Linked DNA regions of Homo sapiens: regions 1 and 3 are each linked to region 2. Evidence: fine-mapped expression QTL. A gene starts in region 2. Each other region holds a variant in brackets. All regions are shown on one strand. Distances are from middle to middle.

What was found. PIP is the estimated chance that this variant, and not a neighbour inherited with it, causes the effect.
Region 1: its variant is the best candidate, but not a certain one, in a credible set for the expression of DNAAF11 in blood mononuclear cells (TOPMed, PIP 0.76).
Region 3: its variant is the best candidate, but not a certain one, in a credible set for the expression of DNAAF11 in Th2 cells (Schmiedel 2018, PIP 0.64).

Annotation. Positions count from the first base shown.
Region 1 is chr8:132,736,995-132,741,237 of GRCh38, reverse strand. The region is part of intron 5 of TMEM71 (transmembrane protein 71); the gene reads left to right. Among named protein-coding and RNA genes, the nearest start is that of TMEM71, 21 kb to the left of the region's middle. The variant A/G (reference allele first, on the strand shown) is at 2,167.
Region 2 is chr8:132,673,141-132,677,383 of GRCh38, reverse strand. DNAAF11 (dynein axonemal assembly factor 11) reads left to right here and starts at 1,839. Exons shown (of 12, transcript NM_012472.6): 1 at 1,839-1,900. The coding sequence starts at 1,891. LOC105375767 (a long non-coding RNA gene) reads right to left here and starts at 1,754. Exons shown (of 2, transcript XR_928665.4): 1 at 1,579-1,754; 2 at 1,326-1,492.
Region 3 is chr8:132,725,100-132,729,342 of GRCh38, reverse strand. TMEM71 (transmembrane protein 71) reads left to right here. Exons shown (of 10, transcript NM_001382403.1): 6 at 1,357-1,545. Among named protein-coding and RNA genes, the nearest start is that of TMEM71, 33 kb to the left of the region's middle. The variant G/A (reference allele first, on the strand shown) is at 2,489.

The sequences.
Region 1 (4,243 bases), 64 kb before region 2:
GCACGCGCCACCACACCCAGCTAACTTTTGTATTTTTAGTAGAGACAGGGTTTCACCATGTGGGCCAGGATGGTCTTGATCTCCTGACCTCGTGATCCACCCGCCTCAGCCTCCCAAAGTGCTGGGATTACAGGTGTGAGCCACTGTGCCCAGCCCTGAGTGGGTCTTAAAGGATGAATAGGATGGCTAGGCAGAGATGAGCTAGGATGATATTCCCAGCTTCCCCATTCTATCTTCCAAACTGCTGTGAGGCTAACCTTTTTAAGGCATAAATGTGGCGTTGTCATCATTCCTTAACACAGCATGCAAGGCCTTTTGAATATTTCCTACTTCTCCAACCCAAACTGGCTGCATAATTTTCAGGCTCAGTGCAGAATAAAATACAGGACCCCCTGTTCAAAAATGCTTAAGAATCTCAAGTGTCAACCAAGAAAAACTGTTAAACCAAGAAAAAGGCCCTCGGGAGCAAGAAGCCCTGTGCAATGGCACTTTTCAAAGGTCCGTGTGGCTGGTCGCGTCTTCAACTCCACCGTTGTCCTTTCCCTTACATGCAATTGACACAGATCACACTGATCTTTCAGTTTCCTGAATGGATCCTGCTCTTCCACACATCTGTGGCTTTACTTATGTCACTCACTCTGCTGTAATTCATTTATGAATTCATTTGGAAGATTTTATTGAGGGCCAATGATGTTCCAGGCATTATCCTACACAATGGACATAGTGGTGAATAAAATGGACAAAATGACTTGCTCTTGTGGAACTTGCATTTCTACTGGGGGAGATAGACAATAAATAAATTATGTAGCATGTTAATAAGTGGTGAGTGGTATGGGAAACAAGAAAAGGGGAAGTGATGGGGATTGCAAATGTAAATAAAATGGTTAGAGAAGGCCTCATTGAGAAGAACTTTTGAGCATTGGCTTAAAAGCAAAAGCAAAACAGCTCTGTGGATATCTGGGGGAGGAACAATCCAGGCAAGTGAAATGCTGGTGTACAAGTTCTAGTCTCAGAGCCTGCACTGGGCTGAGTGAGTGAGGGGGGATAGTAGGGAAAAGACTGAAAGGTGTGTCAGGAATGCAAGTGGGAAAGAACAAGGGGAGCTGTGGGGTCATTTCAAAGGCTTTGCTTTCATACTCTGAGTGGAGGGCAAACCACTGGAGGATTCTGAGCTGAGGAATAACTTGTTTCAATTTACATGTTAAAAGGATTATTCCAGCTGCTGAGTTCAGATTAGATGTCCGCTATTAGGAGCAGAAGCAAGAAACACGTTAAGAGGCTATTGGTGTGATTCAGGTGGGAGATAATGGCAGCTTGAACTGAGATGATAGCAGAATGGTGATGAGAAGTAGGATTCCAGATTCGTCTTACAGGTAGACTCAACAAGATTTGCCTACGTGGCTGTGAGAGAAAAAGAGAAGTCAAGGGTGCTTATTCCATGCTGAGCACTTCACATTTTGTCTTTTTAAAATATATTAGCTTGTTTACATACATTATCTTGTTTAAATATCCCCAAAACTCATAAGAAGTAGGTCATATTATCATATTTATTATAATTATGATAAAACTGAAGTTCAGGGTTAAGGAACTCGCCCAAGTTAATTTAGCTTATAAACAGCAGAGTTGGGGCCTGACACGGTGGCTCACTCCTGTAATCCCAGCACTTTGGGAGGCCGAGGCAGGCGGATCACGAGGTCAGGAGATCGAGACCATCCTGGCTAACATGGTGAAACCCCGTCTCTACTAAAAATACAAAAAATTAGATGGGCATGGTGGCGGGCACCTGTAGTCCCAGCTATGCGGGAAGCTGAGGCAGGAGAATGGCGTGAACCTGGGAGGCGGAGCTTGCAGTGAGCGGAGACCGCGCCACTGCACTCCAGCCTGGGTGACAGAGCGAGACTCCATCTCAAAAACAAAAACAAAAACAAAAACAGCAGAGTTGGAATTCAACCGAGGTCTATCTGATTTAAAAGTCCAGACTCTGCTCTGCTGCCCGGAAGGGCTTTGTTTTCCTTTTCAAGGAGAAATCCATCATGTCCCTCATAGTGCAGGCCGAAAGAGCAAGCTAGAGGAGTCGTATAATGCAATAATCTATTAACTTAAGTGTATAATAATTACATGGCTATGATTTTTCTTAATCTGCTTCCTAGACAGAAGACACACGTA[A/G]CATTTTTTTTTAATTTTCAGTAACTTTGATTCACAAAATGTTACAAAAAATAGTATAGAGAGGGTCAGTGTATGCTTCACCCAGCTTTGCCCACTGATAACTACTTATACAGCTATAGCACATTATCAAAACCAGGAAATGGACGTTGGCACAATGCCATGAAGATTCCACCAATTTTTACATATATTCCTGTGTGTGTGTGTGTGTGTGTGCATGTAATACTAGATTAGTTTTAAGAATGCAATAAGTGCTTGTTAAATGAAGAAACAGTTCTTAATATGATCAAAGGATTACTTAAATTGAGTGATTCTAGTTTTCCACAATAACAAGAGTGTAAAAGCAGGAAGAGGAGAGGGGAAAGAGCAGGGATGTGGGGGGTGAGGCCAGAAATATTAATTGTAGATATTTGAAGAACCTTTTATGCCATATTGAGGATTTGGGGTTTTATCTAATCAATCAAGAATATTTTTTGATTCTCTTAAGCAGGGTGATGATGCAATCAGATTTGGAATTTTCAAGTTATCTTTGCAGTAGCACAATTGAGGATTGGATGGGAGCTCTGAGGCAATTAAAATCAACCAGTATCCTAAGGAAGTGGCAGGAAATAGGGAGGAAGGAAGAGACTTAAAGAATATTTTCCAAGGTAGAATTGACAGGTTAGTGATAGATAGAATATAGTAGTGAGAACGTGGGAGAATCAAAGAAAACTGAGGTATTTAATTTGGGAGACTGCATAAAAAATTCTGCAAGTCACCAAGGGCTGGAAGATAGTGTGGTAGAGTGATAAGGAAAATGAGCTTTTGAACTAGATGAACCTGAATTCAAATCCTAGAACCAGCTTTTCCCACCTGAATGTTCTTGGGCAAGTTATTAACTAACCTCTCTGATCCTCTACTTCTTATATATAAAATAAAAAAATAGCATATAGAATGGGGAGGATGAAATGCAATAATTCATGAAAAATGTCACACTTCTAATATCTCTTATGAATACCAGGGGCTGGTATTCTGCTTAATACACATTAGCTCTAAAAAGGCAGAAAAGAACAGCTGAGGATCATCAAAACAGACAATGAATTGTATTTCTTATGGGTTGAATTTGAGATATCTTATGGGAAATAGATAACCAGTAGAGGTTTGGAAACATAAGAAGGGGGTTCAGGAGTAATTCATAAGCCAATCTGAGAAGGAATACAGTTGATACATAAGCCAATCTGAGAAGCAATACAGTTTTTTGGAATAAAGAAGTCTACTTATGGAAAACAAGTGAATGAGAAGAAAGGAGCGGTAAGAAAGGAATTCAGGAGGTTGAACAGAAGCCCCAGTAATAATGATCCCTAATTGTGTGAGTGCTAGGGGCAAGCACAGTTCCAAGAAAGCCACATGTCACGTCATCACTTCTCTGCAAAGCCTCTGAGTTATTATTATTTATCCCCATTTTCCAGGGGAAGAAGCTAAGGTAGCTTAGGTACTATATATGAGGCCACACAGGTAAGAAGTCGCATAGCCAGGATTTGAAGAGAAAAGTCTGAGCATGTGCTCTTAATCCTGGGAAAAAGCTCTTTGGGGAAAGTTTCTCAGGCAAGGAAGCAAGAGAGTGTGGTGTTATGAAAGAAAAGAATATGAAGAACTGGCTAATGAAGCACAGCTTGATAAGGAGGTCAACTCAAGAATTCTGTAGTCCCTGGTAGATGTGTTATGTGTGGAATCTTCCCTCCAAAGGCAAAGGAGAAGTTATCTCTCTGACTCTTTCTGACAGAGTGGCACAAATATCTTAGTACAGAGCTCTCGTTACTTTTTAATTGAGATATAATCCACGTTCCTTAAAATCTACCAACTTAACGTATACAATTCAGCGATTTTTTAGTATAGTCACAGGGAGGCCATGCAATCACGACTGCTTTCCTGTTCCAGAACATTCCATCAGCCCCAAAAAGAAACCTGATACTCACTCGCAGTCACTCCTCCTTCCCCACCAGCCCCTGACGACCAATATTCATCTACTTTCAGTCTCCGTGGATTTGCCTATTTTGGACTCTCATTATTTTGTTTCATTTTGATAAAATGTTTAATTAAG
Region 2 (4,243 bases):
ATGGCACAATCCTAGTTCACTGCAAGCTGAGATCCTTTATAGTAGGCCTGACCTCATGCTTTTGTCAGCTTAGAAACTAATCTTTCTGCCCAGTAGTAGCTTCCTTCTAGAAGCTAGATCCTTTTTAGCCTTGATGAACCCCTTGTTGTTAAAATGCACAATTCAAGCACAGGCGAATTTGCTAAACTTGCCTGCTGCTAATAGCATTTCATCTCCTTTGTGAGTAATCAGACATCAGTGCTCAGTGTCACGTGTCAGTGTCAGCGTGTCAGTGGCACGACCACAGATGTTTACCCATATTGTCATCATCATGTGGAAATAGAGAAGTTTCAGCTTTCAAAGGTGAAGTCATCTGTCTGATGCCACACAGTAATAAATCTGTGTATTTAATCTATGTTTCCAATGCCAGAGCTAATACTGTTCACCTCACACTAACCTGCTTTCAGAAAAATAATAGTGGATGTCAGGTAAGTTTATAGTTTGAGTGCCTTTTGGGAGGCCTCCTTGGAAATCCAAATATTCAGGGAAATAGTGCCTGAAATCCCACTCTTCCAGTTCAGTTCCTTTGGCCTGGCATTTAAGGCCCCCATTACCCCCGATCTAATCTCTCATTCTTACTGTTCGAAGATCCCTTCTATCTAGCTCTCTTTATTGCCAAACTGATGTTTCTGCTTCCCCCCATCACCTCACTCTGTTAGACTTTCCTGCCTCTCTGTCCAAGTTCATGACCTTGTCTCTACCTGGCAAACTCTAATAATTGCCAGCTGTAAATGCTTAACAGCTATTCGCTAGAAAAATTAATTTCTTTGCACTCAGCATTGCTCTAGGAATCTTCTTTTAAAATGCAAACATAATACACACATCAAGATAAGAAGCACGCACTCCATACTGTTTAAAACGACTGGGATGGGAGAAGGTTTTACCTTTTACATATTGCCCCCCTCCTTTTTCTGCAAATGGAGTAAAGAATAATAATTACTTTCATAATAATGGTACCTTTTAAAGATTCTTGGGAAGCTAACGCATTAAAGTGCTAACACTAAGATCTGAGGGTGAATGAGCTTGCTGATGTGCTTCCTAGTTTAGAATGGGAGAAGGCGCGTTGCACACTTTTGGAGAAGGGTCTGGGGAAACGTGAGGGGAGTGTGGGGCTGTAGGAGATATACTTCCTACATTTTACAATTAAGAGAGTGGAGAATAGGGAAATTGATGGAGGGGGTAATGGGTGGCGTTTCTGGAAAGCTTGTTAGCCGGAAACGAGTGTTGGAGAGTGACTTTAAAAAGCTGGAATATGACAACGACAACGAATCTTTATAGTGAGCCTGTTGTTTTCATAGTGTCTTTCATTCACTCAAATTATCTAATTAAAGCTTCACAGTGATCCTCTTAGGTTATTTCTCATCTTACAGATGTGCAAACTGAGGAGAAGGAAGTGTAAGGTCACGCCGCTGGTAGAGTTGGGGGCCAAATCCAGATCTGTTGGCTCTGGAAGCTGTAAATCAAACACAAAAAGGAAAAAGTCAAAGGCGGTCTGGAAGGCAAGCCTGGAAGGCACAGAAAAGAGAAGCGTCCTCATACTTTGTTCACTCTAAACCATTGATTCAGGGAGAGGGAAGCAGTCTGTGGCAAGTCGGAAGTGCGACGAGGACGAAGACTGGGTTTGGGTTGGGGAACCCCTGTCTGCTGAGCCCCTTCACTGCGGTCTCCTCTGCTTGCTCCGCGGAGCTCAGGAAACGCGGCTTGTTTTGGTCCCGCGCGGCCGCCGTAGAGTCCCCGTTGCCATGGCTCCTGAATTCCGACGGGGACGCGCTGAGGAGCAGGGGTGAAGGGTGAAAAGCGTCATTCGAGGTCCGGGTCCGGCTTGCGGGGTCAGCGAACTGGAGAGGCGCCATGGGCTGGAGTAAGCCCCCCTCCACCTTCCGTCCTCGATCGTTCCCCTTGTGGAAGTAGTCCCGGGTCTCGTGGGATCCTCGCCGCCCGCTCCCGCCCTGCGCTGTCGGTTCCCCCGCGCCTGGGCGGACCCTAACCCCACCCGGCCCTCCGCACCGCAGCCCCGGCTGCACCAGGTCCTCTGCAGACTGGCCGGACAGCCTGGCCTTTTCCAGCTCAGGTTCCTAATCTGTAAAATGGGCGGGGCCGTGGGAAGGGGAGGAAGAGGCAGAAAGGCACTGGACTCCAGGAAAGGGGTCGGGGAACGTGCAGGGGTTTTGGCGCCAGACACACCACGTTCCGGCCAAGTGGCTCCTTACTGGCTGTGAACGTGGGCCAGTCACTGTCTCCAAGCCGCAATCTTCGGACTCATTCCGGAAGGCAGTGTAGCCTAATGGTGGAGGGTTCCGACTCTGGAGCCAGGGTTGAAGTCCTCCCTCTTCCTGTGACTTTGAGCGAGTGACTTCACCCCTTGGGCCTCAGCTTCTTCATCTCCAAAATAATGGCAATCATACTACTGTTTTAGACACAGTAAGTGTTATAAACGTGTTTTTGTTTGTTTGTTTGAGACAAGAGTTTTGCTCTGTCGCCCAGGCTGGAGTGCAGCGGCGCGATCTCGGCCCACTGCAGCCTCCGCCTCCCGGGTTCAAGCAATTCTCCTGCCTCAGCCACCTGAGTAGCTGGGATTACAGCGTGCACCACCACGCCAGGCTAATTTTTGTATTCTTAGTAGAGACGGGGTTTTGCCATGTTGGCCAGGCTGGTCTCGAACTCCTGACCTCAGGTGATCCGCCCGCCTCGGCCTCTCAAAGTGCTGCGATTACAGGCGTGAGCCACTGCGCCCGGTAGTAAACGTGTTTCTTTAAGAATATACTAACAAACTGCAAGGTGATGCGGGTAAGTTATTTATATTGTATGAACCATTTTGATATCGACAACGTTTTTGAGCTCCCCATATGGCAGTTTTGTACAGCTCTACCTAATTGATCACTTATCATTGTAAAAATGTCATAATTAACTTTTTTTAAATCAAGAGACTGCTCCAGATGATGGGCTTTCTGCCCTGGAAGACCTGACAGCCTGCAAGTGGGAGAGGTGGGGGTCGGGGGGGAGTGATTTGTAAATGTTGAAACTCCTTTCCTAAATCAGCTACTGATATTTCTTCCTCTCTTCTCAGGGCTGTCTCCCCATCCCCTGGTCTCACCCTAGTTGGTTTTTTTCTTCTTCTCCTTCTCCTCCTCCTCCTTCTCCTCCTCCTTCTCCTCCTCCTCCTTCTCCTCCTCCTCCTTCTCCTTCTCCTCCTCCTCTTCCTCCTCCTTCTCCTCCTCCTCCTCCTCCTCCTGCTCCTCCTCCTCCTGCTCCTCCTCCTCCTGCTCCTCCTCCTCCTGCTCCTCCTCCTCCTGCTCCTTCTGCTCCTGCTCCTCCTGCTCCTTCTCCTCCTTCTCCTTCTCCTTCTTCTTCGCTTTTTTATGTCGGGAATTTTCCTTTGCCCTCTTTCTCTGAGTCGTGCCCACTTTGATTTGTTAAATCATTAACTTGTCAGACTTGCATCGGAGTGTCTACCTTGAATCAGGTATTGAATGCAGGATACAGTGAGGAAGGAGGCAGATGTGGGCCTACCCTCCTAGGGAGGGAGAAGACAAACAGAAGTATAGTGGTTACAGCCAGGAGAGAGAGGGGTGCCTGTGCCCTGAGGGTGTGGGTAGGGGACCTAACCCCAAGGTGGGTGGAGGCTTCTCTGAGGAAGCAGTGCTGTCTGGAAAGGAAACAGGAAAGCTCAGTGAATTGCCCAGAGGTGAGAAAGAGCAGGGCTTCTTGGTGGCTAATTGTCACTGACAGGAACTGGTGTGAGACAGAAAGAAGGAGTGGAGAGCAAAGAGATAAGGAAGGCCTGACAGGTAGGCAGGGATCCGCTCATACAGGTTTTGTACTTAGGATTTAGAAATTTATCAAAAGAGCCACAGAGAAACCAAAAGGTTTTGTTCATGGGCATAGCTTGGCCCTATAGGAGTTCGAGTGGGAGATAGTAGGCTGAACTGAGGTCGTGGCAACAGGACAGATGACAAGCACTCCTCCAATGAGTAGCTCTGATGTGCCAGGCTTGGTTAACATGCTTTACCTGCATTCTCTTGTTTGATCTTCCCAGCAGCCTTTTAAGGCAGGGAAGGATTACTGACATCTCTATTTCTTTGGTGAGGCACAGAGAGTAAATCACACAGTAACTATCAGGGCTGGGAACAGAACCCACGAAGATTTCCTCTGGGTCCTGCATTACACCGCACTGCCGCCCACAGGACTGAGGCGAGTGGACAGA
Region 3 (4,243 bases), 52 kb before region 2:
AAATGGGAGACTTCCAGTGGTTGAGTCAGAGGTGTGGTGCTTAACTATCCCTGTGGTTGAAAGGCATTCTTAACACATTCATCCTTTCCAAGGAAGCTTTGGCTTATAGAGTTTTGGATCCCCTAATCTCTGACTCAAACTAAGAATCAAGGATTAAAATTCATTCCTTGGTGACCTCACATTGAAGACACCAAGTGTTATGAGGAATCATCTTAGCATGTTTGAAACTTGAAGTTGCATGCATGCTTTTGCAATAAACTTGACTTTTTGTGAGAATGTCAGGCTAAGTTTAGGGCAAGTAAAATATATTTATGTATGAATCATCATAGGAGAAAATGGGTGCATGTTCTTGAAGCTATGTGTGTATGAAATAGCCTCTTTGAATAAAAAAATTTAAACAGATGGTTGCTATATTTTATCTAGGCATTTCAATGTATTTTATAGAGGCAGAATTTCCTTCATGACACTTATCACAAGATATTTTCTTCCCTGCCACTCAGCAATATGTAAGGACAGAGATGTTGTTCTAATTCACCACTATATCCCAGCAGCTAGGTCAGTTTCTAATATATAGTCACATTCAATAAATGTTGAATGAATAAATGAATCAGAAGTAGAAAGAGTTGACTGCTGTAAAGTTTGGTCCTATAAAGATGTGAGGTTCATATACTGACTACATATCCTTTAAATCCATCTATACAAACTTCAGTGTCATTGAAGATGCCTCTGGCCTTTGTTTATCTCTGCACTGAAGATATTTCTCTTCAACCTTCAAGTATGAAGACAAATTGAAATGCCATTTGAAATGGTTTGCCTGTGTCCTCACCCAAATCTCATATTGAATTGTAGCTCCCACAATTCCCACATGTTGTGAGAGGGATCTGGTGGGAGGGTATTGAATCATGGTGATGGGTCTTTCTCATGCTGTTCTCATGATAGTGAATAAGTCTCATGAGATCTGATGGTTTTACAAGGGATTTCTCTTTTCACTTGACTCTTATTCTCTCTTTACCTGCCACTATCCATGTAAGATGTGACTTTGCTCCTCCTTGCCTTCCACCATGATTGTGAAGCCTCCCCAGCCATGTGGAACTGTGAGTCCATTAAATCTCTTTTTCTTTATAAATTACCCAGTCTCAGGAAAGTCTTTATCAGCAGCATGAAAACAGACGAATACATCATCTCATCTCATCCAAAAATCCTTCTCCCATCCCACTATGGTAGTGCAATACCGTATCAATATTACTATTTTTGTGATTATTAGGAACTAACTGTGCATTGAGCAGTCACTGAACACACACACACACACACACACACACACACACACACTCACACTGAACCCCTCTGCTTTTTCAGCAGATGATTTAGACTGTTCTTCTCTGACTGATGACTGGGAGTCAGGGAAGATGAATGCAGAGTCTGTGATCACCTCCTCTTCCAGCCACATCATATCTCAGCCTCCTGGAGGAAACTCCCATAGCTTGTCTCTTCAGTCCCAGTTGACAGCTTCTGAACGTTTCCAAGAGAATAGTTCGGATCATTCAGGTGAGTTCAGGTGTTTTAAATATTTGCCACACCCAAAGAATTCTTCCTTTCAGAGCCTGAGAATGACTTGGAGATGACTAAAATGCAGTTAGGAGCTGGTACCAACCTGTGCGAGGAAGGGAGGACATGGGGCCTCTGCCAAAGCCCAGGTGACCCTTTGCAGAGGAGATGACTGCCTTTGGGTGTCATGTTAGAGGCATCAGTAACTGGATCTGCAGTGTTTTACTTAAAAAATATTCAGAGACCGGGCACGGCAGGTCAGGCCTGTAATCCCAGCACTTTGGGAGGCCGAGGCGGGCGGATCACAAGGTCAGGAGATCAAGACCATCCTGGCTAACATGGTGAAACACTGTCTCTACTAAAAATACAAAAAATTAGCTGGGCATGGTGGCGGGTGCCTATAGTCCCAGCTACTCGGGAGGCTGAGGCAGGAGAATTGCATGAACCCAGGAGGCAGAGGTTGCAGTGAGCTGAGATCGCGCCATTGCACTCCATCCTGGGTGACAGAGCGAGACTCCATCTCAAAAAAAAAAAAAAATTCTGAGAATATTTTGTAAAATGTTAGGCTTCAATAAAGCAAAGTGGAAGATACACAGATGTTTGCTATTTTAATTCTTAGCTGTGTATTGGACATACTACATAAGAAGGCACAGTGGCTCACACCTGTAATCTCAGTATTTTGGGAGGCTGAGGCGGGTGGAACACCTGAGGTCAGGAGTTTGAGGCCAGCCTGGCCAACATGGCAAAAGTCCATCTCTACTAAAAATAGAAAAATTAGCTGGGCATGGTGGCACATGCCTGTAATCCCAGCTACTCTGGCGGCTGAGACAGGGAGAGTCACTTGAACCTGGGAGGTGGAGGTTGCAGTGAGTCGAGATCACTCGAGATCATACCACTGCATTCCAGCCTGGGTGACAGAGTAAGACTCCAAAAAAAAAAAAAA[G/A]AAGAAGAAGAAGAGGAAACAACAAAAAGAACATCCTTTAATGCTATGCTTCTGACAAGGAAAAGTCAAAAGATAATAAAGGCATTGGTATTTTCTGGCAGGAGCAAAGCTGTAATAAATTCAACAAGCATGTCCCTTAGTCTCTGGTTTGCTAATGTCAGATTAAGCATGTTTGGACATGGTGCTGCACCAAGGTGAAAGAGCCCACTCTGTCATTGGCTTGCTGAGATTAAAAGCCCAGATCCCTACTCCTTAGCTATAACTCAGAAGCAGTTTACCAAACCCTCTCAAACTTCATTTTTATCTCTACATGGAGAGGATCATAATTCCTACCTTGTCATGACTAAAATAACTCATGTAAAGTACTTAGCATACTATGTCATGTCTATTGAATACTCAGTAAATGTGAAGTTATTGTTACATAACATTGAAGTTAAATGGAAAAAATATTTTCTGTTTATTTGCTTTCAAAAAATCATAAATATTCACTTCACTGGCCATCACTCTTCTAGTCCTGAAGATCAATATGCTTTGTACATTTTGTTCCTAGTGCAGCTACTAGATAAGTGTTCAAGGGTTTTTTTTGTTTTGGTTTGGTTTTTGTTTTTTTATAGTTCCCTTTCCAGGTGTTGAAATGACAGGTTATCAACACCTAAGAAGGCTCAATAGCCACCTCCTCCAGGGAGCCCACCCTTCTTGGTGCTCCCCTAGCTCCCAGGACTTCTCTTTCTCATGCCCATTATTTGCACTGTCACTGCATGTTTGCCTCTGTGAGCTCCTTAAAGATAAGCACTAGGTCATTGTCATCTGTGAATTCCAAAATGCCCACATAGGCACAGAGATGATGCTTCATTACTGGTGGACCAATTAATAAGTGTGCTACCTCCATTTTACACATAAGAATATTCAGATTCAGACAGGTAAAGTTAACCTTTGTACTCTTTGCCAAGAGTTTTGTAAGAACAAATATAAGCTCTTTGCTGGGTCTGGAATCTCTCTCCCACCTGCTATACCTGGGTGGCCTCCTACTCTTCCTCAAGTCTCAAATTAAATGAGACCACCTCTATGCACCTTCTCTACCCCCTTCTGGCTGGTGGAGGTAGCGCTTCACTTCGCCTTGATTCCCTAGCACTCTATATATCACTATAGAAACTGTTTATTTTCCTCTTTCTCACTAAGCTATGAAGTCCTGGGTGGACAAGGTCTCCATCTTCCATTAAGCCCTTCACATGTAGGTATTGCATGTGTGTTCTTTTCCAGGTGCCAAAGATATAGGCAGATACATCAGTTGTATCAGTTGAAGATTTTTGAGTTCCAATGGATGGAAACCCAACTCAAAGTGGATTAATCAATAGAATTTATTGGCTCATCTTAATGAAAATTCCAGGCTTACAGTGCAGGATCCTGGCATTCTCTGTCTTTTGTTGTCTCTTCTCTTCTGTGTCTGTGTTACTCTTTAAAAGGTTGTACCAGACCAGCCTGGGTGACATAGTGAGACCTTGTCTCTACAAAAAATACAAAAATTAGTCAGTCATGGTGTCTCATGCCTGTAGTCCCAGCTACTCAGGAGGCTGAGGTGACAGGATCGTTTGAGCCCAGGAGTTGGAGACCAGCCTAGGCAACATGGTGAGACCCCATTTCTACAAAAAATTATCTGGGCATAGTGGTGCATGCCTGAATTTCCAGCTAGCTGGGAAGCTGAGGTGGGAGAATCACCTGAGCCTAAGAAGTCAAGGCTGCAGTGAGCCAAGATCA